2 separate regions of the Homo sapiens genome follow, and region 2 is linked to region 1. The links come from fine-mapping of genetic effects on gene expression. A gene starts in region 1. The other region holds a variant in brackets. All regions are shown on one strand. Distances are from middle to middle. Region 1 holds the start of PACRG-AS3 (PACRG antisense RNA 3). Region 2 overlaps PACRG (parkin coregulated).

Region 1 (15,497 bases):
TCAGAGCCTTGGGTTGCTTGCTGTCCTGCCGCACTGCACGAGAAAGGTTAGCAACATAAAGAAATGCAACTTTGCCTACTTCAGGCATTAATATAAAGAAACCTACGTACAGGCACCCAGAGACACAAAAAGAGAGAGAAAGCTCACCATTCTTGAAAAAGGCAGTTCTGCAGGCTCCACAAACAAGTACACCAGTGAATGGGAATGATAAGAGGAGAACAATTTGGTTACATTCAGAGACCTGGTGGGCAAATGGAAATGGGACAAGCAGTAGAAATTAGGCCAGATCATGGAAGATTTGTTTTGTTTTGTTTTCATGGCATGATACCTGCAAGGCCAGGAAGGCTGAAGCCAGAACACCAATGCAATTAATTAGCAGAAACCAAAAAGTAATTAATTTAGCACACCACCATATAGGGCAGAAGCAAATACTGCTGTTTGTAGCCAGGGATGGGGAAAGGATCTAACCACACTCCAGGCACCTCTGCACATGGCACCACAGAGAGAAAGATGGAGGAGGAGTGCAGCCGTACGCTGGGAGTCATCACAATTGTTTTTTTACCGATAAAAGCAAGTGGGAACAATTGGCCAAAACAAGCCTGGATTGTAGTAGAAAATTAAGCTAAGAAAGAAAGATCAGGGGACATTGTGATAAAACAATCCACGTAATTTCTATAACATGGATCCAGCTTAATAAGATGTCCTGAAGTTCAGCATGAGTAAAGTTCCAGGACAGTTCAGGGTTGTCATAGGAAATCTACATTTTTCAAATTAACAGGACTTAAAGATGTTACTGTTACTTCAACACTTGGTAAATTTCACTGCAAATATATAAGCCATTTTAAAGGAAAGTATTAGATAATCAAAGAATTCGTTAAGAAAAAGAACAAATTGAGTGCCCACAATATAAATGGTGGCCCTGCTGCAGATTAGTTCCCGATGCCTGAGATAAGATGCTGGAGGAAATCGCGGCATCATCAATTTAATCCCACACAAAATGCAAGCGACCACCTTAGCTTAGTTGCAGTTGTGGTGGGCATGAACTTCACAGGGGCATAATTGAAGGCCAAAATTAAATGCTCTTTATTTCTCTGTATCTCCGTGTAATGTCCTGATCCTGAGCCCCAGACTGCCTCATGGGTCCAGTAGGGATGCCTCTCAGCAGGTTGTGCATCGGGAGAATTTTGCTGCATTGAGCTCCAGAGCTGCTTCCCTGTGTCTCCTCTCCCACTGCTGACCCCACCCCCATCTACTCTAAGCCCCAGCAAATCACCCCAGCACTCCCAGGCAGTGAGTGGGGGAGGGCGTGCCCCCTCCTCTCTCTGTTTTGGTCCAGCCTATATGTCACAGGGCTTCTTTAAACAGTGACTGGGCCTTTCTGCTGGCCTTCACTTAACTCTCAGCTCAGCTTGCAGGCACCCTCTGAGACGCAGGCACTGCCCCCTTATAGAATCTGCATAGTGGGCTGCCTAGCCAGGGGGCTTCGTTGTGTGGCCTTTTCTCTGGCAGGCTTTCAGATTTCCCCCTTCCCCCAAGAATGGAGCCAAGGGGTGGACCCCAACATAGCCTGCTGGCTGCAAAGCTGCACACGCCTGGAGAGCTGCTGTCCAATGGCAAATGGAAGCAACATTCTCATTGTCTCCACTCTCAGACACCCTCAGATTACTGAGGGAATTCTCTCGTGTGCCCCCTTCAACACACAGGCAGACACAGATACACACACACAGACACAGACACACACACACACGCAGACACAGACACACACACACAGACTACTTGTCATTCTAAACTTGCCACCTCTGTCCTCAGCATGGGGCCAGTGTGGTGGAGAGGCCTGTTTTGCCTGGCTGTGCCCACAGTCTCATCTCTCCCAACTTAGATTCTTACTAAGAGTTGGAACTCTTGATTCCTCTGGCCGCTTCTGGCAGCCTCTTCCCCTGGACACACCCTATCTCCCTGCCCAGTGGAGCCGTCGCGTGCAGGTGTGCATCTCTCACTCCTGCCGGACCAGGCGCTCCCTGGCCCCATCTCACAGACTAAAACATGAGGCTGTTCCTTTGCTTCCGAGTAGTTTGATGTCATTCAACCCAGCATGCATTTCCTCTCCACCGCTCTGCTCCCTCCCTGGAGGTGCTTCTGTTCCTACCCGCTGAGGGGCACAGTCAGGAGGTATTTAGTCGGCCTCCCGTCGCCCTCACCGCACACACAAGACCAATTTGACGGTTGTTTGGGGGCATCCACTCCTGGGGCTCTTGACATTTTCCCCGGGCTCTGCGCCATCAGCGCCCTTTCCTGCCCCCACTTCACGGGCTCTGTCTCCTCTCCAGGCACCTGCTCTGCAGGGAGGGAGACACCCCCCGTCCTCAAGCTCCACAGGGTCCCGGGTAATTTCATCCGTTTCCCTTCCCTATCAGTGGCTCCCAAATCTGTTTTTCTCAAAGTCTGTTTTCCTCTGAACACCAAATCACAGTTTCAACTGTATGTGATACAACACCTGAACCTCAGGATGGCCTAAATTGAACTCATTATTGACTTCTCACATCCGCTCCTCCGTTGTATGCCCAACATCCCTCCATAGACTGATCTGTTCGCGGCCTCTGCTGGAACCTCAGTGTCACCTTGGACGCCACCCTCGCCCACCCTACCCACGCCAGTCAGTGCACCCAGGCCTGTGCAAGTGGCCTGTGAAAGGCTTCTGTGCTCGCCGCCCGCCTTTCCAGTGGCTCAGGACTGGCCCCATCTCTTTGCAGCACTGCTGAGAACGCCTCTCAACTGAGAGCCCGCGCTCCTCCCCTCCATGAATGTATCTGCTTTCCACCCCAGACTTCATCATGGTGCTGCAACGTTGACAGCCCCGTCACCTGCAGAACCATCCAAACCCATCGGCAGCACACAGAGACCCTGCTGGATTTCCCAGCCCCGAATCCCACCTTTTCTACTTCACCCTCTTTTCTACCTCACTCAGTGGGTTTCCCATCCCAAAGTGGATTCTCACCTCCATGGTGTATCAAAGTCCTACTCCTTCTCCCAGGTCCAAAAGAGCTTCTCTGGGGAGGAACCCCAGCATCCCAGGCCATGAGTCAGGACTCTCCTCCAGCACTGCTGTGACGCGGCACGTGACCCCACCTGCGCACTTAGCACCTCCTGTTACGCGCCTGTCCGCTGATCTGCGCCTGTCATCACGTGAAGAGCTCCAGGGAGGCCGGGCTTTCTCCCAGTCCCCTTTATATTCCTCGGGTCTAGGGCATGCCTCACACTAAGTCAATACCAAATAAATTGTCCACTCTTCAACAAGGCAGGAAACATGAGGGGAGAGTTAAAAAGTCCCAAAATGAGCATATCTCTTTGAAACACCCCTTACAATATTAGTTTTTAAAATTCTACTTGTTGAGCTATGTTGGAGTTGTGTGGGTTTATATGAGTATCTTTTCCTACAGGGAACTATGTGATCTGTGCAAATAGAGTCCCCACACACAGGACTGGTTTGCATCAGAACATCGGGGAGGCAGGAGCCCCAAGTCAACCATTCTTTGTATAGAAAAAGCTCTCCCAAGTCACTCTTTTCTTTGGCATGTGCATAGTCATCTTTTACCAAATGTTTAGTCAGTATCAAATTCATTTGCTACTGGAAAACCTGTTTTGATGACAGTTGTTGCTAAAAACCTGTACCTGATCAAAATGATTGAGCTTACTAACTCTAAATTAAGGAGTGTCTATTTAAGCCCCCGAAGCTACAGTAGAAAATCTAACGTCATCTCTTAGAGGTGAGCTTGTTAAAATACTGACGTGATGCCTTTGTGAGTCCACCGTCTCCTTTATAAGAATCAGGCCACTGATCCTCAGGCCTGAAGGCTCATCTCTTGGGAAATAGAGGTCACACCAAGGGTTTGGTCCGTGAGTGAGAAGGTCGTCTCCAGCCTAGAAAGGTGAAGACTCTTTGATTCTACAGTTCTAAAGCGTGGCCTGACCGTTTTATTTTAGTGGCCTTTCTCACACTTTGTCTAGTTTCATTTTTGTTACATAATCTGCATAAAAATTCCCTCAGTAGTTACAATTGCAGTTTAGTTCATGTCTGACTTGGTGTGTCGTTCTGTTGTGTTTGAGATCTGAAAAACTGTCGTCATTGCCCATCCAGATAGCATTCAGTAGAGGGGAAAGGATTCCTTTGTACAAAGCAAGCATGGGCTTAGGATATTTCCACATACTATTCATTTGCAGACATTGACTAAGAACAATTAGGAATGTACGCTAGAACGTGAAAAACATCTTTTACATTTGGATCCATCTTGTAAGTGACCAACATACTTTTCTTTGAAAAAATAGAGCCCATACGTTTGTGGCCTAACAAGACATGAGAGGATAATTGATTAAAATGTCAAAGGTGGTTGGGGAATGCTGAGATGGAATGATACTGCAGGAAAGATTTCGCAAAAACAAATTAAAGTGGAAATTACAATTCATGTATAAAGCCCGTTTGTATGATCAAAGCAGGCATCATCTGTACTGCTAAGTTCTACGTATAACATAGTTTTGTTAAAGAAAAGTCAGGCATGAGATGGACATAAGGGATTTGCTGACAAATGCATAACAGCTCTAATGACTAATTTTGGTTTTAGTTAGTGCAATTCTGTAGGTGGACATTTAGCCAGTTTGTTAACAAGGTGTTTTAAGAATGTCTTCCAGGACAATTTAAAAAAAGAGAGAATTATCTTCTCTTACAGAACAATGAAAAACAGAATTATCTTTCAGGGATGGATGTTTATTACATAACCTATTGGAGAATAATGGAAGGGAACTAGATGCCTTATGCCCAGCTTATTCATTATCTGATACCTTTAAAGGCTGAATGGCATTGCCAATTATTCATTGTGGCAGGGGCTGCCATCAATTTTTAGCTTACAGATTGCTAGTTTCTCCCGTGTTCTCTTCCATGAAACAGCAACATACTCCATTTTGTTCTCTATTTAAAAATTTTACATTGCAGCCCTCCAACAAATTAATTCCATTTAGGTTTCTTCGGGAAGAGATACAAATGAGTTTTGTGAAAGTGTACTTAAATGCAGCCATCCAGCCATCAGCATCAACAGGCAGTCAGCTGTGCCCAGTGCCATGCGCCTGATGCCCGTGACTGACAAGGGCCCGCATTCACTGTCCCGGGCTTATGTGAATGCTGACACACTGGTCACCGCAGGGCATACTGCTTGTTGCTGCTTAGTTCATGCTTGCACGGGCAGACCCCCAGGTGGCCTGTCATTTATTTCTATAAGCTAGGTCTGGTAACACCACAAAAGCAGTAACATTCATTTATATGAAGGAGAAGTACATAATCCAAAAATCAGAAAAATTACTTCTGATAGAAGAAACTAGGTTTCAAATGCGGGTCTTAATAATACAACTGGATTCCGATTGCATTACATTGGTTTTCTCTTCCAAATAATTGGCAAATGAGGACAAACAGCTCATCCCCATCCTAACAGGAAGGTCTGAATCTGAAGCCTTACCATCGGTGACTCATTAGGACCCCATTAAGAGCCAGAAAACTTGCCTAAATATAATACAAATCGAATCTTCAATGAGGACTACACATTTGTAAACTAAATTTGAAGTCCCCAAACATTTACAAGTACATTTGTTCTTCATAAGTACAGTCGTAAAGAAAAGCCCAGTCAGTGACAGTCAACCTTGAGCAACGTTGGAATATGAGGTTTGAAAGTGAAAATAGAGGTCGGCGCACAATCTAGTTAGTGCAGAGTTGCATTAGACACAAGTAGTCAGTGACCCCGATGCACGGAGGAAATTCTGAAGGTTCAACATCTGTCTGAAAATAATCGAAAGGCCCTGCCTAGCAGCACAAGGGACTTTCAAGAATGGGCTTTCCTGTAAATTTTGGATTTCTTTTCTTAGAGAAGGTAAAAATGACCTGCTTTCTACTTTTCTTCTGATTGGACTGCAATGGCCAAAAATATTTATAAGAATAAAAGTTAACAAAAACAGTCTAACCCGTCAGTTCAGAACCCTAGTAAAATTTGTTTTGGAGCCTAGAACTAGAATTGGGCAAAAGTGTAGGGCTCTTTCTCTTATACCAAAAAGCCCACTCAAATGTTCTGTGAGCCCGCTCCAAAGATAAAGTCAGAAACAACTTAACAACTTCGTCTTCTTTCACTGATTACTTCCCTCGTGTTCTGTCTATTGCTGATGATGTCCTGACAAACAGCTCCAAGCACACTCACCCAGTGCCCGTGTGCAGCATGCAGACCACTTGTCACCCAATCCATTTCTGAGGGATGACTGTGTTCCTGAAACAACTGAAATCAGAAATCCCTTATTTAGCATTTATTAGAATACTGAATTTAAAATATTACATATTATCATTTGAAAAACAAAACAAACAAACAAAAAACCTGTTACTTAGATTCAAGTTAAAAGAGGGACTATGTATTCACCCTTAGTCCAGGAGAACAGCTTAAAATATGAGCACCTTTTCCTAAGCCATTCCACTTAAATGGACACTAGACCTCAAAATTGCAAACAATAAATACATAAATAAAAGCAATAATTAAAAAACTAACTTCACCATCATCCCTTCCCGCCACCCCCCAAACCTACTTCCTTCCCAGGCTTCAGATGAAATTTCTATGAATGATCCCACCCAGTCTCATTCCTCAGCTCAGTGTCAAGTTCCAGTGTCCTCTGATCTTCCCTTTCTCTGACCCCCACACCTTTATGGCGAGTGGCCCCCCAACGCCACGAGGCCTTTCCCCTTCACTGCTATGGCCGCTTTCTGCACCACCCTTGGGGGAGGTCACAGCCTCTCTGTGACCTAAGCTCTCTCCTCTCTAAAGAGAAGGCATCCACTTAGGTGGTTTATAGGGTTTCTCCTAGCTCAAGGATCTTGAGTGTATCGTTGAGCTAAGATACACTCACGAGCTGAGACCTCCTGACTCAGGCACTGTGGCTGCACTCCACCAGGTGACTTATCTGTGGACCACACTCCACGTGGCCATCTGTGCCTATGCTCTTCCTCCACCCATCCACCAAAATGCCATCTTCTCCACTCCCACTCAGAGCCATGACGTCCCTCTGCCCCCAGGTTGTCCAGGATCCTCTCATCTTCCATTTCCAGCCACCTTTTTTCTCTAAACCCTGTAACACTTCATAGGAGTCCCTCCCAATGAAAGCCACACCCCGCCTGGTGTCTCACACCCCAAAGCAGACTGTAAGCTTCCTGAAGACTGTCCTGCTCCTCAATGTCCCATCCCCTCCCGAACTGACCAGCGGTGCTATCTACGGGGAAGCACCGGGGCAGTTGTTGTTGAATTGATTTCAGTTAATTCAGTTTTTAACTGAATCACACAAAGGATGTCACAAGCTAGCTTTTATAACTAAAGAAAGCACAGTTGTGCAGCTGCCTCCAGAGTCTCTGGGGGTTAGAGGGAATGAAATAGGGAAAGTCCCCAGAAGCCAGCTGACTGCTGCTCAAACCAGGTGCAGGTTGGGAGAAAATCTGTAGTGAATGAAGGAAAATGAAATGCACAGTGGAAAAGAATACCAACATTCTTGCAAAGGAACCTTAAAGTATTATTTTTGCAAAGAATGCAAGGATTATTTCAGTTCCCTTGTTGACTGTTTTGTATGGTCTTCCTACAGATACTTTCAGAAAAAGATCTATTGTTTGTTTTTCTCTGTGCTGACACAGTATCCATTGTTTAGAACTGTAATCATAGCACACATAGTTGAAAATGTGGGCTCGGGGACAAGCTGTATTTTCCCCTCTGGTTCTTTAGACAGTGAATACTGTGTTCTTTATCTCTTATCACAGCTCTTTTGTCAAACATTTAATGATTTTTTCCCCCAGACAAATTTGTAGTTTGTTATCAACCATAAAAATGTCTATTGCCTTATTTTTAAACATTTAAACTTTGGTAAGTGTGTCTCAAGATGAGCATGAATTAAGGTGTTTATTTCATTTTAAATACTTTTTTTTATCATAGCGTACAAAGCTAGAGTTCTCTGACATGGATGGCTTATGTGGATCTCTATTTAGACTTGATGAGAGAACATTTTATTTTTGTACTGTGTGTATTTGCAGGGAAGATGGTTAGGCTGACTGGCTCCCAGGTTGGGTGTGTTGGGAGCATCTGTCAAGGGTTGGACAGGTGCAGACATCTGTGACGTCCTGCAGTAGGCAGCCATCACTCGATTTCCTGCTTAAAAAGATCTGACACACTTCTTCACTCCTTGGATCTCCATTTTTTCCAAATGCCCGATACTTCTTACCATTCTACAACCCTTAAACCGGATCCCAAAGTCTGTGAGAGATAAAAGCCTTTTTTAAACCCAATAAACAGTCACTCTTTGTTGTTCCTGGTTTTAAAATGACAATTTATTGCTTGATACAGACATTTGAAGCCTATAATTCAAATGAATATTTATAAAAATAAATTTCAAGCACACTGGCATGTAACTGCAGGGTAATTTTTAAATATTCATTTTTAAGGTGGTGATAGAGTCTAGAAAAATTTTAATGTGCCACGTTATATTTTATAAATATCCAACTATAGAAATATGCCTTGTGTGCTAATCATTTCCATAAGGCTTCACTTAGATTGAGAGAGTGAAAATGGGTGTCAGTCTTTCAAATATCCAGAGGAAAAACTTTCATTTTGTTTTAAATTTGTTTTTGAGGGCTGAATTTAAACTTAAGACAATGTATGAAGAGTTAAGGTCAGAGTTGGTACTTTCACCACTATTCCATTTGTATTGCTTTAAATTCTCTGATTAAGTGTGGAAAACTATCAACAAGGCGATTGTTCCCAGGGGCTGCCCGGCCAGAAATACCGAGACTGACCATTTTTAAGAACCCAGTGCTATGTGCGGAACAGGGCGGCATGGTGGCCTCCTGAGAACTGGGAGGGAAACACTAAATGAAGACGTGAACACATGGGATTTCTTTCTTTCTTTATTTTTATTAAATAAAAAATATTTTTATTTTGTTATATTGAACTCGACAAATTTTCCTCAGAGATAATTTTTGTTTCAATATTCAAAGTTAGAAATTGTACCAGCCCGTCATAGTTTGAAAGTATTCCTAAAAGTAATTCAAATAAAAATGTATTTTAAATGTAGTACACATTTTAAACATATTGGAGAAAACATAGAATCAGAGACTTTTTCAAATCCATGTTGGACTAGGAAACTGTTTCTTTTTGTTTCTTTTTTTTTTTTTTTTTCCTGAGATGGAGTCTCATTCTGTCACCCAGGCTGGAGTGCAGTGCCGCGATCTCGGCTCAGTGCAACCTCCACCTCCTGGGTTCAAGCGATTCTCCTGCCTCAGCCTCCCGAGTAGCTGGGACTACAGGTGTGGGCCACCAAAGCCGGTTAATTTTTGTATTTTTAGTAGAGACAGGGTTTTGCCATGTTGGCCAGGCTGGTCTCAAACTCCTGACCTCAAGTAAGACTGTTTCTTAATACTAATCAGATTTGACAACAGATGAGGCCATCTGTGATGGAGGTTCTGCGCCCGATTACACATTCCCCTGTAGCTCATAGACTCAGTGCTCCTTTCTACAGAGGAGAGATTCCATAGTCAGTGTTCCTGGGGTTCTGTTTTTACTTTTGAAGTTCCAGAACTTAGTTTCAGTTCTTCCTCTTGATGTCTCTCTTTTGTTCTCTCCCCCTCTCTCCCTCCCTCCCTGTCTTTTCTCCTGTCTCCCTGTCACCCTCCTTCCCTCCTTTCATATCTTTCTTTCTTCATCTTGTTATTTCCATCTGTCTGCCTTTCCCAAGGCAGGAAACCCCGGCGCCTCCAGGCTGGTGGTGTCTGGCTCTGGGCTGCACAAGCCACAGGCCACCTGCCATCAAGCACAGAATGGACTTGACGGGGACCCTGACAGCCAGTCATTCCTGGGACTAGATAGGGTGCAGCCGGGGTGTCCGAGGTGTTTGTAGTCATAGTGGCATACCTACACTGAAGAGGACAGCTTTTTTGTAAGCGGTGGTTGCTTCACTCATCAAAATAGCCTATTTGTGAAGGCATCAATGTGCAAGTATTTTGGAGCAAGTAAAATCAGTCCTGGAGATTAGAACATGCAGGCCTACTGGGCCACAGGAATGGGGCTGCCTGTTGAGACTGGAGTGCAATGCCCCCCAACCCCACGCCTGCTGTTCTTCCCTCTGCTCTTCTCCCTTCCCACCTCCTTCACTCTCCCCTCCTTCCCCACGCCCCTCCCTCCCTTTTGGTCATCAGTGCACTTTGCAGGCATCAGATATTTGGGGCTCTTCAAGTGCCTCCCCTCTACATCGGTGTCCACGGGCTTGCTGAACAGTGAGCCTCTCCTCCCTCCTGGGACTGGTCCTCTTCAACTTGAGCCTTGATCTGGAGTCGATGGTAGAGGGAGTCCACTTCTCTTGACCCCGACTCTCACCATGTCAAAAGGAGGTGATGTTTCCAAAGGTAGCAATTGAAGGAGCCTCTTTATCCCCCCATAACAGAGAAAGCATCGGGGATGCCTTGGCCTCTCAGCCACGCTTTGATGATTGGCATTTGATTGTTCTCACATTTCATTATCGTGAACCACTAATAATGTTGGCTAATTGTTTATTTCATTTATAATTCCTTAAATCTCCATCTAGTCTTGAAGCTGTTGCATCCAAAGAGAGTGCTGCCAAAGAGAAGTTTAACCACAGGTGCCGCCCTGACCACACTTCCAAGACTATCTCCTCATGTGGGTTCTCCTTACATCATACATTTGACCGTGAAACCCATGAAGACAGGCGTCCAATGGAGAGGAGTGTTGGAGGCCTCTTCCCTTTCCACATGGCCCTAGAGCCCAGTGTTTTCAATGTGGTGTGACTCCCTTTTCCAGCGGCGAAATCGTTCCCCCGCTTCCCAGAAGTGTGCTTTAAAGACATTTTGTGATAAGGGAGTGCAGGTAGGAAGGGGTCTAACCTCCCCCAGGGCTCCCTGCGCCTCGGCGGCTGAGGAGGTGGCAGTGGAGGCCGCCCGACCCCCCTCTCAGCCTCCCTGTGCTGCGTTCCCTGCCCTGCCGGGAAATGGAGATTCTGCGCCTAAAGACACACAGTCACGCTGCTTTCAAAGTTTCAGTTCCCACGGCCATTCTAAAATGGCCCCTGGAGAGCTCTGGCTTCCTCCTGCGCCCCTTCCCGCGCCCGCCCCTGGGTGTCTCCGCTGGCTCCCCAGCATCTCCTCCCAGCTCGGGATCTCTCTCACTCATTCCTCCCTCCCTGATTCTCGCCTCCATTCTCCCGCTCTCCAGCAGGGCGCAGCTCCCTCTTGCTCTTTCTGGAGAAGCAGGGATCCCAGAGACCCCCTACGAGCTGGTTCCCTCCCAGACCCCGTCCCTCCAGTCGCTGGCTCAGTTTCCTTCAGTTTCCTCCAGCTCATCTCCTGCCCACCTCAAAAGCAACAGGTCCAAGATCCCAATCAGCATTTCTCGCACAGCGTTTCCGCGAGAACGTTCCCTGATCATCTAGAGTTAGGGAAGTAGAACCGTGCCCTGCACATGATAAGCACATGGAGACTCTAATCAATGAGAGCTACTATGATTGCTGCTCACGGACAGCGCCCAACAGCTCTGTTGTCCCTGCTAATGACACCGTCGTCCCTCCCCTGGTCAACCACGACCCAAATGTTAAAGTGACCTTTCACTCTTTTCGCCAACATGTATCCGCTCCAAGACCTCTCCTGTCCTAGGGCTACTGGGAGCCTTACCTGTGGCCTCACCTTGCTGTGCAGCATTGGGGAGTTGCTGCTCTGCACCTTAGAGATGTCAAATGGGAAGAGTGACAGCTACTTCAGCAGGGTTTGAGGCAACATTAGGCAACACAGTGTAAATAAATTACATAACAATCTGCTTGGCACTTAGTGATGGTTCAATAAATGTTACCTGTTGTCGTCGTTGGAACTGTTGACAGAATTCAGTGAGACTTCAGTGATGGTTTCTTGAAAGAGTCACTTATCATATTCTGCAATCAAAGAAGGAAGAGAGGCCAAGAAATAAACAGATACATGTGCACATGACACAAGACCCAGGGTGAGCAGATGTTCAGAAGACAGAGCTAAAGAAAGACTAGAGAGACAGACAGACAGACAGAAAGACTAGACAGACAGACAGACAAATAGATAAACAGGTAGAAAGAAAGACTAGACAGATAGACAAATAGACAGACAAATAGACAGGTAGATAGATGGATAGACATGTAGACAGACTAGACAGACAGACTAGACAGATAGATAGATAGATAGATAGATAGATAGATAGATAGATAGATAGAGGCGGACAGACAGCTTGGTAAATGGGCAAATGATAGAAAATATAAATAAATATATGAAGGAGGGAGAAAACTGAAGCAGAAAAAAAGTAAGAAGAACTCGTGGTCATTTTACTAAACTTTTAAAAACTTGAACCTAAAATTTTCAAGATAACTTTTTTCTGCCAGGAAAAAATACATATATTAGTAGAATGTGTCAATACCTGATTTTTTCCACAGTAAGAGCATTTCCCTTTGAATACAGTCATAACTGGTTCTCCGTTAGTAGTAATCACAGCTCATCTCTGTGGATATTGTTGGTGCTTTCAGTTGCTCCAGTACACATCTATTTTGAAATCACCTTTAGCTATAAAGGAAGAAAAAAGAAATACCATCTGTAAATGCTTGCTCTAGAGGTGTGTCATAAAAGTACAGTCCCATTAACCTACTGTCCTTATGAAACTGGTGGCTATTTTCTTTTCTTTTCTTTTTTTTTTTTTTTTTTTTTTTTTGTGAGACAGGGTCTCACTCTGTTGCCCAGGCTGGAGTGCAGTGGCGCGATCTCGGCTCACTGCAAGCTCTGCCTCCCGGGTTCACGCCATTCTCCTGCCTCAGCCTCCCAAGTATCTGGGACTACAGGCGCCCGCCACCACGCCCGGCTAATTTTTTTTTTTCGTGTTTTTAGTAGAGACGGGGTTTCACCGTGTTAGCCAGGATTGTCTCGATCTTCTGACCTCATGATCCGCCTGCCTCGGCCTCCCAAAGTTTTGGGCTTACAGGCCTGAGCCACTGAGCCCGCCGGCTATTTTCTATTCTTATGTTAAATGTTCTCTCTTTACCTTCCATTTTAAGGGAATTGACAAGGGAGCAATTCAGAGCAGGGGTTATCTTATCTTTCAAAGGAACAGAACTGGCCACATCCCAGTAGAAAGTAGAAAGGATAGCATCCCTGTCCATGTCAGGAGCACAAAACAAAAAGTACAAAAATTGTGATGTAAACCACTTGAAACTTACAAGGCAGTACATAGGGATATAATGACTTCATCATCACTGATGCAAAGAGAGGTTTCTAGATACGTGTTTATCTGTGAGCCCCAGGTCCCCGCTAATCTGTGCTGATGTCTTGAGGAAAATTGGAGTGAGAGTAAAAACTTTGATTCACTCACATACTTTCCTTTTTCAAGTAGGCATTTCAGTCTAGCCTTGGACATGCATTAACCAAACGACTGGAACTAGTTATTCACTAAAGTGACCACAGATTTTTAATATAGTCTGCATCAACTGTTTTGATTATGAGAATTTTACTTCTCTTTTCTTGCTAATATAATGAGTCAAGATAGCTCAGTAAGTTAAAAAATATTCAGAGTTTGATTATTTGTTTATCATTTGTTCAAAAAACACCATCAAATACCTAGATTGTGAGATAAATGAGGAAATCATAGCACCATCTCCATACTGCTTATGCATCAGGCACTTGCTCTCAGCACTTTACATGTGTGTGTGTGATTTACAGTTGTGTGAAGTGGATGGTATCATTGTTCTCACTTTACAAATGATGAAAGTGAGGCCCAGAGATGTTAATTTGCCCAGGGTCACACAGTGAGAACGGGTGGATCGGATGGGCACCGAGGTTGTCTGGCACCAAGGATCTGTGTTCCTGTTTTGCTACATGTAGAAAGTGTGTTGCCTTGCCCATTAATGAGGTCCCAGCATCTGCCCCGGTGTTTGATAATAATAAGGGCTTAATGATCGTGAACCCAGAAAATCTGAGACAGGTCTCAGTTAATTTAGAAAGTTTCTTTTGCCAAGGTTGAGGACACGCCCATGACACAGCCTCAGGAAGTTGTGACGACGTGTGCCCAAGGCGGTTGGGGCACAGCTTAGTTTTATGTATGTTTTAGGGAGACACGAGACATCAGTCAGTACATGTGAGAAGTACACTGGTTTGGTCTGAAAAGGCAGGACAACTTGAAGCAAAGGCAGGAAAACTCGAAACAGGGAGGGGCTTCCAGGCCACAGGAGATGAAATGAAAGGTTACATTCTTCTGAGTTTCTGATGAGCCTCTCCAAAGGAGGCAATCAGATATGCACCTATGCCAGTGAGCAGAGGGTCACTTTGACTAGAATGGGAGGCAGGTTGGCCCTAAGCCGTTCCCAGCTTGACTTTTCCCTTGAGCTTAGTGATTTGGGGGCCCCAAGATTTATTTTCCTTTCACATGATCATGTACGGAATAAAGAAATAGATGAACACCCATGATGTTCAATGTACTCAATGAAGCTCTGAGTACTTAAAGAATAAGAATGATAAAATGTTTCCTGCCCTCAACTAAATTGCAGGCTGATTCTTGCAGCTTGAGCTAATTCATAAGAAACTAGAGATTCTAATCCACTTTCACCAGAGGGCCTTCAGCTAGGACAGAGGCTCCTCCAGGGTTTGTGTCAGCCGCTGTTCCAAGTGAAAAGTAGTGCTTTGTGTCTATTCATTCCTTCAAGGCTCATGACAACCCTATAACCCAGGGACTATTATCATCCCGTTTGCCTGGGGAGGAAACCCAGCCACAGAGCAGGCAAGGACCTAGGCCTTGATCACACAGGCAGGAAAGAGCTGATCCCAGATTCAAACTCAGGCAGTGCAGCCCAGGAGGCCTCACCCTTAACTGCCAAGCTTGGCCGCCTCTCAGGCACCTAATACTTCCCTGGAGGAGTAAATGGTGGAGGTGGGGATAGAGAATGGCCAGACTGAAACTCCACTGAGAAGGATGCCTGGGGCAGAGCTGTCTTCCTTTGAACTCCTCGCAGAACTCATTCTTTAACTTAGCCCCAGAGGCAACCACAATTCAGTGTGGTTCTTTTGTTTGTTGTGTGTCTGTGTTTGTGTATGTGTACAGATATGTATCTACGTGTCTATATACATAGATAGCTACAAACACAAATACATATTTGTATATACTGTGAGGGTTATATTTGTATTATATGTAACATATATCTCTATCACTGCCTAGAGGAAGGTCTTGGACATTTTAAACATCATTAAATGGCACTATAGTGTATTTATCTTTCTGCAGACTTGCCGAAGAATACAAAACATTTGACCCTAAAAAGTGACTCTGCTCACTTTTTAATTTTAAAATGTGATCAGAGATATAGTACTTGGATGGGCAAAAAGTGAAGGAATTTGCTTTGATAAAGACTGGCAACCAGAGGAATCTTTTAGTCCTCTTTATGTA
Region 2 (15,497 bases), 39 kb after region 1:
TTCTGAGTGCCCACTGAGCTCCACACACAATGGGAAAGCAGAAGAAGGATGGAAGTAGTAGAAGCTTGCATTCTAATGAGAGTGTTAGACGACTCGACTGTAATGCACAGGAAAAAGTAAATGCTATAAAAGAAGAAGCCTAAATCAAGGGTTACAGGAGGATTTAATTTTGGAAGAGGGAACAGGAAAGAGAAAGTGGTCAGAAAAGGCTTGAGGTAGACTGCTTTTTGCTGGCTTTAGCATGTGGTGGGCTTTCGACTGGCTGAGGACCAGAAGAAACATGCTTAGGGAGAGGGAGCTGGTCCACAAACAGGCAGAATGGCATGCATTATGAAGATGTGCCTTGCTAATTGAATTGCTTTTCTAAACAGTGGATGAAAAATAAAGTAGAAACAGAGTGATTCTGTTAGTCAGGTTCCCTGGAAATGGGCTCTGAGTTGGAGATTCTTGCACAGAAATAACGCCTATAAGAGACTGAGAATGCTATCCTTATCAAAATTCCAGTGGCATTTTTCACAGAAATAGGAAAACTATCCTAACATGTATATGGAACCACAAACACCCTGAATAGCCAAAGCAACGTTGAGCAAAAAGAACAAAGCTGGGACCAGGCGTGGTGGCTCATGCCTGTAATCCTAGCACTTTAGGAGGCCAAGGTGGGAAGATCACCTGAGGTCAGGAGTTCAAGACCAGCCTGGCCAATATGGCACAACCCCATCTCTACTAAAAATACAAAAATTAGCCAGGCACAGTGACAGGCACCTGTAATCCCAGCTACTCAGGAGGCTAAGGCAGGAGAATAACTTGAACCTGGGATATGGAGCTTGTGGTGAGCCAAGATCATGCCACTGCACTGTAGCCTGGGCAACAGAGTGAGACTCCATCTCAAAAAAAAAAAAAAAAAAAAAAAAAAGAACAAAGCTGGAGTCACCACACTGCCTGATTTCCAAATACACTACAAAGATATAATAATCAAAACAGCATGGTGCTGGCATAAAAACAGACATGTAGACCAAATAGAACAGAATAGAGAGGCCAAAAATAAATCCACACATTTATATTCAGCTGATCTGCAACAAAGCTGCCAAGAACATAACACAGGGAAGGGACAGTCTCTTCAATAAATGGTATTGAGAAAACTGGATATCCACATGCAGAAAAATGAAACTGGGCCTTATCTCACAACATACAAAAGTCAACTCAGAATGGATTGAAGATTTAAATATAAGAGTTGGAACTGTAAAACTGCTAGAAGAAAACATAGGGGAAAACTACGTGACATTGGCCTAGGTAGTTTTGTTGTTGTTGTTGTTGTTTTTGATATAACCCAAAAGGCACAGGCAACAAAAGCAAAACTAGATAAATGGGATTATATCAAACTAAAAAGCTTCTGTACAGCAAAGGAAATAATCAATAGAGTGAAGAGATAACCTACGGAATGGAAGAAAATATTTGCAAACCAAAAATCCTATGAGTTAATATACAAAATATATAAGGAACTCAAACAATTTGATAGCAAGAAAACAAATAACCCAATTTAAAAATGGGCAAAGGATCTGAATAGACATTTCTCAAAAGAAGACATACAGATGGCAAACAGGTACATGAAAAAATGGTCAGCATCAGTAATCATCAAGGAGATGCAAATTAAAACCATGATGAGATATCTCTTCACACCTATTAGAATGGCTAATATCAAAATGACAAAAGATAGCAAGTGATGTGGTTTGGCTGTGTCCCCACCCAAATCTCATCTTGAATTTTAATCTCCATAATCCCCACATGTCTAGGGAGAGACCTGGTGGGAGGTGATTGGATCACAGGGGTGGTTACCCTCATGCAGTTCTCATGATAGTGAGTGAGTTCTCACGAGATCTGATGGCTTTATAAGGGGCTCTTCCTCCTTAGCTCCTCACTCCCTCTCTCTCACCTGCCACCATGTAAGGTGTATCTCTTCCACTTCTGCCATGACTGTAAGTTTCCTGAGGCCTCCCCAGCCATGCAGAACTGTGAGTACTTTATACATTACCCAGTCTCAGGTAGTATCTTTATAGCAGTGTGAGAATGAACTAATATAGCAAGTGTTTGTAAGGATGTGGAAAAAGAGGACCCTTACGCACTGTTAGTGGGAGTGTAAATTAGTACAGCCATTATGGAAAACAGTATGGAGGTTCCTCAAAACGTTAAAAATAGAGATACTGTGTAATCCAGCAATCCCACTTCTGGGTATATAGATGCAAAGGAAATTAAATCAGTATGTTGAAGAGATACTGCACTTTCATTTTCATTGCAGCATTATTCACAGTAGCCAAGACATGGAATCAACCTAAGTGTCCATCAGTCGACGAATGGATAAAGAAAATGTGGTACATATACACAATGGAATACTATTCAGCCTTTAAAAAGAAGGAAATTGGCTGTGCACAGTGGCTCATGCCTGTAATCCTAGCACTTTGAGAGGCTGAGGCAGGAGGATCACTTGAGTGCAGGAGTTTCAGACCAGCCTGGGCAACACAGCAAGACCCTGTCTCTACCAAAAAAACAAAATAAAAAGAAGGAAATCCTCTCATTTTCGACAACATGAATAAACCTGGAGGACATTATGCTAAGTGAAATATACCAGTCACATAAAGACAAAAACTGCGTGATCTCACTCATATGTGGAATCTAAAGTCAAATTCATAGAAGCAGAGAGTAGAACGGTGTTTAGCAGGAGCCTGGGGAAGGAAAGCGGATTGGGAGATGTTGGTTAAAAGGCACAAAGTTTTGATGAGACAGGATGAATGAGTTCTGGAGATCCACTGCAGTCTGGTGACGCTGGTTAATAATAATGTATATTTGAAAATTGCTAAGGGAGTAGGTCTTAAATGTTCTCACCACAAAAACATGAGAAGCATGTGAGGTGATGGATATGCTAATAAGCTTGATGTAATCATCCCACAGGGTATGGCGTACATGTGTTGAAACATCACATTGCGGACTGTAAATGTATATAGTTTTTATTTGTCAGTTAGGCCTTAATAACGCTGGAGGTGGGAAGAAAGAGGAAGAAACGGCTGGGCAGGAGAGGTTAGACTGCCTGGAGGAGGTCCCAGGCAATCTCCACTTGAGGCCAAGGGGCTGGGGCTCTGTGCCTATACATTAGCCAGCCCATGCAGGCTGCTGGAGGAAGGGGTAACCTTGAGTGAAGCAGCTCCTGTCTGAGGCAGAGGGCAATTCCCAGGGTGAGACCCAGCCATCGGTGGCTCACATCCCAGTGCCTGGGGAGAACCTGTTCTCTAGGAGGGTTGGGGCAGTACTCAGCAGCAGCCTCCACCGTGACCCATGATGTAGTAAAGGATAAACTCCAAAAATGTTTGAAAGTGTTTGCATCATTGATGTCTATTTTAATTAAAAGAGCCAATGGGATTAAAAATCATGGTAAACTGATCCTTTGTAGTTCATAAGTGTGATGAGTAGGATTTCACACTCATGTGTGAGATATGCCTCCCTCAAACCTTATAAATGATGATGGTACGTTAAAAAAAATAATGGTAAACCACATAAGATTCCACGGGAATTTTTGTGGCATGTAAAAACATGACTTCCTGCTTGTATTAGGCCATTCTTGCATTGCTATAAGGAAATACCTGAGGCTGGGTAATTTTTAAGAGATTTAATTGACTCCCAGTTCTGCAGGCTGTACAGGAAGCATTGTGCTGCCATCTGCTTCCCAGGAGGCCTCGGGAAGCTTCTACTCACGATAGAGGGCGAAGTAGGAGCACGCACATCACAAGATGAAAGCAGGAACAAGAGGGAGGTGGGAGGTAAGGTGCCACGTACTTAACAACCAGACCTCACCAGTACTCACTCACTAGGGCAGGGATGGCACCCAGCCATGAGGCATCCACCCCATGACCAAAGCACACCTCCCACCAGGCCTCGCCTCCAACACTGGGGATTCCATTTCAACACAACATTTGAGCGCGATCAGATATTCAAACTATAGCACTGCTGTTCTAATGAGTTAGAAGTTGAAGATGCACCAATATATGTAACGGAAAGATAACGAGAGGACTGTAAGCCATTCCCATGGGTGTGCCGTCCTTCATGAAGGAGCAGAGCCAGCAGCCTACCCATCGTTACAGGACTTGCACTGAGCCAGGTCAGCAGGAGCAGAAACAGCTTTATACTGATGGGGACTACAAAGCTTTAACACCCAGGTCCAGCAAACATTCACCCTTACACCCAGACCCTCATACACGTTTGCAAGACTGGACAAGATAGGTCTGCCTGTTCCATTGAGACGAACTGCCCTCCCTGTGGCGAGAATGAAACCCACAACTTGGGTGTTATTAGCACAGCCTCTCATCAAATTGACACCACCAGCCATAGGTTATGATAATAAGAAAATAAGGCAAATGCAGCTAAGCTGATATGTCCAAGTCGAAAAAACTAATTTCAGCTTAGAAAAACAGCACACTAATGAAGCTTTTAAAAATTAACTTGTGATTAAAGATCATACAGACAGGCAGTGTTGGTGAAAAACCACAATGAACATCAAAACAAGCATGAGTTCAGAGTCTGGAAATGTATCCAGAAGGTTATTGTTTTTAAATATACAGAGAAGACACATATATTTGTTTCCTGTTTAAGATATATATGTATATTAGAAAACAAGAAAATTATTTTTTTTTCAATCTACCACTAATCAGTGTGACAAAAATCCATGACCCTCCAGGAATTTGACCAGCTCTCCAGGCAATGGATTCTTCAAATGAGAGCAAGTTGAAGTACTTGTGGTATCAGAAGATGTAGTCAGAGTCCCTGAGCCCAGAGGGTGTTCTTAATCTACGCCTGAAAATGATTGAAATGGACATCAGTGGAGGCAGATAAGCTTTGGAAATCTTTAAGCAGGCAAAAAAAAAAAAAAAAAAAAAAAAAAATGGAATAAGTAAACCTAGAAGAGTACCTGGCACACAGCGGAGGCTCAACATGTGCTGGATTAATTCATTAATTCATTCAAAATTATGCTGGCGGTCAGTTTATGACAAATAGATTAAGATAGTGCACGGGTGCACGGCCATTAGAGTATGATTAGTAAACCAACTTTATACCAAAGAATTCCTTTTTATGGAAAAAGTACAGTCACTTTTTTAAAACTTTCGGCAATACTGCAGAAGTAAAGGAACGATGGTGAACGATCATGATTATTTTTGTAACATTTCCCAAAGTAAAAATTTCAGCTGAAAATAAAAAGAAACCTTTATAAATTGGAATAAATGCAGACTGGAGTGATTCTCTAGCACAGTGACCAACATTTGGACACATCACATAAGTCTTAAAGGTCGCAGAATGAGTCTAGTTATATATGTTTTTCCATTCCAGACAGCTTGAAATTTACTGTCTAATTCAAAAGTCCAAAACTATAAAACTCCTGAAAATAATCTTTCCAAATGACCAGTTTACTTTCTCCCTGGACCTGAAAATAGGATGGAAGGGAAGTCTAATTCTGAGAAAGTAGAATCTCCTTCTGATGTTTTGTTTATAAAAATAGTAAACATTTTACTGAACCAGAAAGGGCTAAATTTCATATCTCAATTTAAAAGTATTTGCAGGCCAGGCATAGTGGCTCATACCTGTAGTCCCAATGCTCTGGGAGGCTGAGGCAAGAGGATCACTTGAGTCCAGGAGTTCAAGACCAGCCTAGTCAACATAGTGAGACCCCCGTCTCTACAGAAAAGTAACCAGGGGAGAGGTGGTGCACACCTATGGCACTCAGGGGGCTGGGGCAGGAGGATCACTTTGAGCCCAGGAGTTAGAGGCTGCAGTGAGCAATAATCGTGCCACAGCACTCCAGCCTGGGTGACAGAGTGAGACCTCTGCCTTCTGCCTCTAAAAAAGACAAAACCACCACCACCACCACAACAAAAAATCCAGTATTTGTGATCCCTTTCAAAGCACTGATTCTTCTGCTTCTCAGAGCACTCAGATTGCATCTGATCTTTGCTTGCCAGAATCATCATTTTATGGTTTAGCAAGGAGTTGTCTGCAGGCTTTGCTCCAGTAATGGTTCCAAAGACATTCAGCCACAGCTTGAATAACCTGCACCTGAGCACAAATGTGGCATTCGTAGTCAAGCACCATCGTTCCCCTTCAGTTAGTTAGTCTCGTGACTTTTTTAAGTAGTAATTCCACACCTGTCAAATGCTGTTGGAAGAGACCCTTGAATAGTTCTAGGAGAACCCTCCTCTGGGAAGAAATTTGGGACAGAAGAATTTTTCTTAAGAAGGAAGAAAAGATGGATGAGGAAAGCGCTGACTTCCTCTCATGAGGACCAACAGGCTCCACAATTCCTTTAGCGGCAGTTGTCAGCAAGATGCCCAGAACTGTCTCCAGGCGACAGCAGAGGTCAATTTCAGGTCCACAGAGTCCCACTAACCTCCTATAATTTAGAACCTAATTCAATTGTAACCTGATGGTGAAATTATTCAACAGTTTGCTTCTGGGCATTGAAATAAATAATAAAAAACAGCAAATTTAATACTGCCATTGTTGACATTCTCTACAGTGGCATCAGAAACGCCTCAAAGTCCTATTTACTTCCAAGTGGCCATCTTCATAGTACATTGTCCTTTGTGAAAGCTCTTTGCAAAGAGAATGTACGTCTATATATGTAACATTTGCACCATGCATTACAGTTTTTAAAGAGCTTAGCAAATATGAATCTTCTTTACTACACAGCACTCCTTTAAGATAAAGCATTCAATAACCAATTTTTAATCTCTTCATTGTAGCACAGGTAACTGTGTCCTTATGTTAGGAAATTATGCCCCTTAGAATACCAGTTATTCCAATTTATCAGCCTAAAATGTATATGGAGTACTTACTGTAAGTCTACATGCATAGAATTTTTTAGTGTAATAAAATATTCACTATTTAATGGACAAAACATCCGAAAGAGATCCTACTTTCTCAGAATTAGACTTCCCTTTCCTCCTCCTATTTTAAGTTCCAGGGAGAAAATAAACTAGTTATCTGGAAAGCTTATACTTAGTGGAGTTTTATAGTTTCGACTTTTGAATAGACATTAAATTTCATGCCATCTAGAATGGAAAAACATATATAACTAGACTCATTCCACGGCCTTTAAGACTTATTTGACGTGTCCAAATGTGTCCAACTATGTGTCTATATGTCTGTTTATTGCTGATGGAAACAGCAACAGTAATTCACCTTCAAAATCCCTAAAACGTGGTTGAATAAACAAATGAAGAACGCAGGATGGTGTGTAATGCCGAACTGCTGTAGGTGCAGAGTTAGGGAGGGAAAAACCCGGAAGGTTATCAGAGCCTCCAACATTCAGAAAAGACTTCCTGGAGGAGAGAGGCCTTCAATTAGGCCTCGAAGGACAGTATTTGGAGAGAGAGGAGGAGGTAGGTAAGGTGTCCCTGCCAGTAATTACAGCCTCGTGAAAGAAGCCTGCGGGACAGAAATGAATATGGTATTGAGATGGCAGAGGAGAGAGGTCAAGGGTGCCACAATCTTCAGGCACAACTAAGAAGATCCCTGCAAAGGCA[A/G]CGGCTCCTCTGGGCCAGCAGAGAAAGTGGAGACCCCAAACAGGGGCTCTCAAGATAGGATGGGGCTGCGGCTGGGAGCGGCACCACCTTTGGGAGGCTGGCAAGGTGGGCAGGCCCACGGGGGAGCCGTGGCTTGCTGGCTGGGGTTTCTCCTGCCAGCAGCACTGGCGTCCTCCAAAATTGCTTCCTGCGGCTTTTCTATTTCTCTTAACTTCATCCACTGTCTTTTCTTATGTCCTGTGACCCACTCACTGCCATGCCACTGAAAATGCTGTTAGAACAAGAAAACAGTAGTCTGTGTCATGTTAATCACATCCTGCTCGAACATGGCCAGAGTTCCCTGCCCATACCCTTTATAAAGCAGTGGACAGTCCCCAGATGGGCTTGCTGGAAGTCTGCACCGGCGCTGCATGCAGGAGAGCCCCGGGCTGCTCTGACCACAGTGACATGCCGGGTTGTCACACCCTGCACGGATGCAGACAATTCCATACAGATGGATCAGCAACTTTGCAGGTCTTCACAACTATGAGCCCAGATCCGCTGAGCCAGGATGCCTCAGCAAAAGGTGACTTCACATAGGGTGGCTTGAAAAGGCAAGCAATCCTGGCTGACTGCATGCCTTCCCCAGGACCAGCACCCACCAGGTGACTCCTTTTACCCTCAACAAACTCCATCTGCCAGTCAGAGCCCCTTATCCATGAGCTTGCATAGTTTCAGAATCACTCTCAACAAGCAGAGATCCATTTGCCTCTCTGAGGTGGGACCATACAGGTGCAAGAGCCTCTCCAGACCACTGGCTGCAGGTTGGCCATGATAAACAGCCTCACCCAAGAATGCTGAGCACGCAGTTACTGTAGGTAAACAAGTCCCGGCTTCACTCTCAGCTGGAGCTGGCACTACGTTGGTATTTATGTAATGCTGCATTGGCAGATATTTCATCTGCAGTATATGTTGAAATGGACAGATAATTATTTAGAACAAATAAAATAAGCTACTTCTGAAGATGACTTGAAGTGGGCACTGACTTGCTGGGACTCTCAGGCCAGCCTCTACCACCCAAGGCAGCTCTCTACAGAACACAAAGGTCCAGCCTAGAAGGGAGTGGCTGAGGTGAGTGCCTCAGGACAAGCCAACACAGTGATGTTCATTCCAGGAATATTTATGATGAAGAGAACCCAGGAGAGCTGAAGATTAGCGTCACACTCTTATAATAGAGAAGAGTTCACCTGCACCAGGTGCCGTGTCCCGCTGGGGCCTGGCTACTCCAGAGGCTCCTCCGCTGCTGCAATGTGCCCGAGCCCCAACCTGCAAGTCCTCCTGGTAGAGTAGCTCTTAGCTCCAGCCTGCGTGTCAGACCAACGCCCACACTTTGTCCACTTCTTACTTTGTTTAGTAAGAAGGGAAGGGAAAAGGAAGAAAAAGAGGAAAGGAGGAACAAAGGAAGAGGAGAAGGAAGAAGGCAGTGCAGTAAGGGAAGGGAAAGGTGGGAAGGTGTGGAAATAAGAAGCAGAGATGAGAAGGGGCAGAGGAAGGTGGCTCTGTGGTCCTGGCCTTGTTCATGGCAAAACACACTTATACTTTGAGGGTGTTCCGCTTCCCTAAGGCACACCGGGGAAGGTCAACAGGTTCCTGTGGACCAGCGAGAAGAGGAGCCCTGTTCAGGAACAGCAGGCAATAGGAAGAGACAAAAGTGATTGATTCCCTGAGGTGCCAGAGCAGGAAGAACAGTCCAGGCATGGCCTGAGAGCAGAGCAAGGTAAAGAGCACGCCTCACCTACCCCCCAGCTCACGCTCCCAGGAGGAGGCCCTGGCCCTGCACAGCCAGCCCCTCCACCCCTCCTCCAGGAGCCTCCACCCCCGAAACCAGCCCTCAGCCCTCTCCCAACTCTGCTCCTCCAGCTGAAATACTGCCCCTCACACCAGGGCCGCATCCCTCTGGGACTACAGCTGGAGTGGCCCTGCCAGTGTAGCAAAGGGCATCTCTGGGGAGGAGATGGTCTCAGCAACTTCAAACACATTTTCTGTTAAGTTTTCTCTTGTATTGTGATGTTACAGAACACGCTCAGCAGGAATTTGTCCCCCAAGAAGTATTCTTTGCTGCAATCCATCTTCAATTCACAATGGGAATAACCTGCTCACTATCCTTTGTATTTTTCTCACCTACTTTCATGTTTTCTACATCTCTGTTAGGAGATTTAAATTATTTAGGGACAAAGCTGAAGGTGTGTGAATGGATGGATGAAGAGATGGCTGAACTGATTGATGAACAAAAAGTTCACCTGCCAGTAAAAACAGAGGAATGGAGTAGAATGCAGGAGGCCGGAGGCTGCAGGGGCATTTTACAGTTGACCTAGATGGTAATTTGGAGAGAGAGGGAGAGAAATGACACCAGCCTTGAACTTGAGAGATGCCATTTTCTAAATTACCCTGTGTGGCTAAATGACTTTTGCATGCTAGCCCAAAGAAATAACTGCCATGCATTTCACTGTGTGAGAAAACATATTATGAGTTCAAGAAAATAAGAGGAAACATTTTAACATCAAGATGGGAAGGGATAAAGACAGTCCAAGAGGCCGTGGAGGGGGCAGGATACAGCTGTCCACATGAGAAATGGCAGTGACTTCTTTGTGTTAGGGGCAGAGGAGATGGAGAAAATGGAAATATTTGAAAAATATTGAAGACATATAAAGGACAGGTCTTAATAACACAGAATTGTGAGTGAGGAAGTAGGATGAGTAAAAGATAACTTCTGGATTTCTGTTCTGAAAACAAAATTCTGGAAGGGGAAATGGAATGAGGAGCACGTTTGTAGGGAAGGAGGGAAATTGTAAGTTGCACTGTCCTTCATTGTTAAGATTTCACCAAATGAGAGACATTCAAATAGAAATATTCCCTAAATAATAAGACATTTTGTCTTGGGGCTCAATAAGAAATGCCTGGTGGGAAGTAATAGATTTTATTCAGCCATTTAAGAGTGTTCAGGTCTTGGGGGATAACTATCATCATTAAAGGAAGAGTACTCTTGTCATTAATGATGGAGATGGTCCATAGAAAGTGACACAGAGCAGGGACAGAAGATGATCTAGGGTGCAGTTCTGAGTCTCACCCTCTGCTATAGTTTGGGTATGGTTTGGATATAGCTTGTTTGGCGCTGCCAAGTCTCATGTTGAAATTTGATCTGCAATGTTTGAAGTGAGGCCTGGTGGGAGGGTCATGGGGGGTGCAGATCCCTCAGGAATGGCTTGGTGCCATTCTCAGGGGAGTGACTTCTCATGGGAGTGGGTGAGTTCTCACTCTTAGTTCCTGCAGAAACTGGTTGTTGAAAAGAACCTGGCAGCTCCTCCTCTCTTGCTTCCTCTCTGGCCATGTGATCTCTGCACACACCAGCTCCCCTTCGTCTTCCACAATAAATGGAAGCTTCCTGAAGCCCTCACCAGAAGCAGATGCTGGTGCCATGTTTCTTGTATGGCCTGCAGAGCCATGAGCCAAGATAAACCTCTTTTCCTTAAAAATTATCCAGCCTCGGCATTCCTTTATAGCAGCCCCAACAGACTAAAACACCTACATTTAAGGGACAGACGGCTCCCAAAGGAGACCAAGCAGATGTAGCCACAGATGCAGGTCAAAAACCACAGGAGTTTACTTCTATGGGCACCAAAAGAAGAATGTGTTTAAACAAAGAGAGCAGAGTCAAAAATTTCTCTTGGAGGCAAAGTAAAATAAAGGCTGAAAAATGTCCATTGAACTGAGCAACAATGCTGTCTTGGGTAAAGCAGTTTTCATATAGAGGTAAAACAGAAGCCAGATTATAATGGGTAAAAAAATAAATGAGAGTTGAGGAAGAGAGCAAGTACAGGCAACTCTTTTTAAAAAGTTGATTTTGACGAAGGAAAGTGGGGCCAAATGTTGGTAACGTTTTGGGTTAGACAGAGACTTGCTAGTTTTAAGACGAAAAGACACGACTATGTTTAAATGAAGAAAGATATGAGCTCCATGAAACTGAAGGTACAAAAAAGAAAGGCTATAATCTATTGTACAAGGGCCCTGAGGAGGTGGGAAGACATAGCGGAAGAATTTGCCTGAAATGAGAAGGGGCTCACCTCTTCCATCGTAAGCCGGCTGAATGGGAGTTGTGGGCATGACTCGAGCAGTTCAGACGCACCACATTTCCTGCTGCTCTCTAATATCCCCAAACCTGTCATATTTCCCCTTTTGCATGTGACAGTCTAATGATAATCCTGAAGCATATACAGATATATTTCTTCTCCATTGATAAAGCATCATATAATCTTCTGGAGACACAGGCTCCATTAAAATAATTTCTCAATTTCCCCATTGTACGTAACTGCCTTCCATGAAGCTTGCCACTAAAATGTCACTTGACTGAGAGGAGGTGGTGTTGGTGACTAGAAAATGTATGTCTTGAGAGCATGGTGTTCTTTTACTTGTGGAATATGAAATATCTGCTTCCAAATTCCTCAAGGTCCTTCTCCTTGGAGAAGGGGTTTTCCTCTTGCCAGATCATGCCATTCATCCCCTGTGTTAATGTCTATAGACTAGCAAGGAAATGTGCCTAAATTCAACAGCTTGCCAGCACCTAAGAGAAATTATCAGAAATATTGTCCACTTCCTCTTATACATTTCTCTCTGGAAAATTTTTTCAATTTCACAAGGTTTTATCATCTATATTATAGGGATTTGTTTTTAATTCTTCACAATTTCCTTACACTCCTCCAAAGGAATCTTTAACAAGTACAGTTCTCTTTTTCAATTCTGCCCTTGGTGAGTCAATTTATAGTGTGGTTTGATATTTTATTATTGTCAAATATTGCTTATAAGAGAGAGGCTTTGGTTTGGTAACAACTAAACACTAAAAAAGAAAGGAAAAAAGTTGTTTTTTTTGTTTGTTTTTGTTTTTTTAAAGAGAGGCTTTGGGAAAACTGGCAAACTTTCTGCTCTTCCAAAGGTTACTTGTTATATGACTGATCTCCAAGCATTTATTTATCTGAAAAAATCTGTTTGTGATTCTGCCTATGTCAGGGCAGCAATGGCTACAAGATACTTTGAAAGATGGTGGGATATGCCACACAGGGTATGGCATACCCTGTATGAACCTCAGGGTAAATCATGTTAAATAGAACTGTTCTCCTCCCATCTGCCAAAGCACATTTATTTTTCTTCAAACCAAAATGTAGTTTGACCTCCAGGTAGGTTTCCTAAACAACCCTGCCCTTCTCCATTCCTCCTAGTGCCACCTTGAGCTGGCCTTCTTCTGAATACTCTTTCATTTATTGGTAATTGTGACTCACTTATGTATACTTATGCTTTGCTAGCTTCTTTCCCCCTTTGGAAATTAATCTCAGCAGAAACTGAGTTGAATCTCTTCTACGTATTCCTAAGCATAGCTGTCCTTTGAGCACTCCATAAATATTTGTCTACTGACTGGTTGAAGATTTAGTCTCACACAAGTGCAGATGAACTTCATCTCATTTTAGAACTCTGATGGGAAATATGACTGTGTTACACAAGATTCCGGGTCTTTTCCTACCCTCGGGTGAATAAAGAGCCATAATCAATTACAAATGTCTGCTATGGGACTGAAAAGATGGCAAGAAGAGGTGGAGACTGTGCCGCTGTACCAAGAGTTTGCCACTTCGTTTTAGTGGGGCATTGAATGGTTGATTGTATTAGTCCGTTTTCACACTGCTATAAAGAACTACCTGAGACTGGGTAATTTATAAAGAAAAAAGGTTTAATTGACTCATAGTTCTGCAGGCTGTACAGGAGGCATGGCTGGGGAGGCCTCAGGAAACTTACAATCATGGCAAAAGCTGAAGGAGAAGCCAGCTCATCTTACATGGCTTGAGCAGGAGGGAGAGAGCAAAGGGGGAAGTGCTACACACTTTTACAACAACCAGACCTCATGAGAACTCACTATCATGAGAACAGCAAGGGGAAAGTTCCGCCCCCATGATCCAATCACCTTCCACTAGGCCCCTTTCCCAACATTGGGGATTACAATTCAACACGAGATTTGACTGGGGACACAGAGCCAAACTATATCATTGATGGTTTGATACAGGCTTTTGAGATACGTAATGTGTAGATATTTCCTTTAATTACTTAGCATGATGAATTTCATCAAACCTAAATATATATCAGTGGTTTGATTGGCTAGTTGGTGGGTGGGGTTTTTTTGGCAGGGGGTGGGTTTACCCTCCATTTCTTTAGTCTGACAGTATAACTTTTGGTCACGTGATTGTTCCATAAAATATATTGGGATTGCATACATCCTAATTTGCAGTAATTTTATTTTCTTGATAGACACAGTCTTCTGTAAATGGATTTTTATCTTAGCAAGTATTTTTTATATACATATTTTCTACCAACATAGCTAATTTGACTAGATGTTATTAAATAGGGAGAAAATCTAGCTCTAGTTCATGTTTTCTCTTGCTTAAGGAAAACAAAAATGCTCAACTTTTGTTGAAAATGAATGTAAGGCCAACGGTAACATTATTCAAAATATAATAATGTCCTTTTTAAGATAAAGTAAATTGGAGTTGTCTCTTTGTCACCCCAGTTACTGTCTCTAAGGCCACATTTCTGTTCTCATAAGATAGGTTATATGAAAAGAAATTGAAGCACCATAAATTACATTAGTGTAAGGTCACAAATTAATCACTTTATAACCTATTTTCTCTTGAAAACTCTTTCTTTATAGAAGTTCTACCAGAAAATGGCTCACACTATTGAACTTAATAGGTTATTACTACATGTTTTGCTCAGTATTCTAAGCCAAGTCATCAGGAAAAGATTATAGTTACCAGTTCCCATTGTCCTGTTTGACATCAATGAAAAGATGCTTTACTTATATTTTCATGTGTTATTTATCCTGTCAGAAGATATATCCATTTTATATGCAGCTAAAGTTCCTGGGGCTTTTCATTAATCAACTAAACACAGGATGTGCTTGAAGGAAGAGCTGTGGAAGGGAGTATTGCCCCACTGTGGAAGGGAGTGTTGCCAAACCCTTTTAGTAAAACTGAAATTATATTTTCTTGGTTAACTGAAAAAGAAAATGTTAATGATGGTGTGGACTAGCATCAGAATTAATTTTACTCTACAATTGAATTTATGGTCAAAGTGTCATATTCCTATTATTTAAGAATGTTTTGTATTATATCTTAAATAAAATTTATTAGCTGAATAAATATTTATATGCATGATATAATGGAATAAAAGAGGGAGCAATGGAGACTTTATTTCAATAAGTGAGTTTTATATACAACAGTAAATAATTAAATCCAATTGATTCCAGAACTCATAAGGCACTTCTTTTATAAGGATAAGTGCAGTATTGGTGTTAGATTGAGTCTATAACTTATAACAGTATCATACTTGGGAGGAAGAATTTGAATAGAAGGGCAGAACAGAATTTGAATCTAGTTCAAATGAGAGAAAATCTTTGTAAAGTGCTGGCATAATGAAGGAAGAAGTGATTTGACATTGGCATAGATTCTCTCTGCTGTCAAAGATCTGAAGAAGTCGTTTCATCCCACTGCCCCACATGGGGCATTTTAGCCAGTTGACTGCTGGTGGTCTCAGACAAAGAAGGAACACGTTCAACACCACCATCAAGGACTTTCGTAGTCTTGATTCTTAGACTTTGAATAACTCTTCTTTGAGTTCTATTAACATTCATCTTTATTTTTCTCAGTATTGTAGAATAGAATGTTTAGACTTCCCAGAATATTTTTTTCTCATGTAAAAGGCTCAAAAAAATGGTGTCTCTTCTGTATTTCTATCAGTCACTCTTTCTTCTTTGTCCTTCATACTTGAGTTAATCCATCTCATGCTTCAACCTCACTTTTGGCGTGTAATCACCCATGTTGTTTTGCTATCTCTGATGATGGAAGTGAGTTTGGTGGAAGCAAA

What was found.
Region 2: its variant is fine-mapped to the expression of PACRG-AS3 in lung (TOPMed, PIP above 0.99).

The regions. Positions count from the first base shown.
Region 1 is chr6:163,184,678-163,200,174 of GRCh38, forward strand. It overlaps PACRG-AS3 (PACRG antisense RNA 3), which reads right to left and starts at 7,325. Exons shown (of 4, transcript NR_122120.1): 1 at 7,204-7,325; 2 at 6,231-6,305; 3 at 148-241. All of the region lies in intron 4 of PACRG (parkin coregulated), which reads left to right. RefSeq lists an enhancer at 1,457-2,027.
Region 2 is chr6:163,223,482-163,238,978 of GRCh38, forward strand. All of the region lies in intron 4 of PACRG (parkin coregulated), which reads left to right. It also overlaps the pseudogene LOC124901548. Among named protein-coding and RNA genes, the nearest start is that of PACRG-AS3, 39 kb to the left of the region's middle. The variant A/G (reference allele first, on the strand shown) is at 7,560.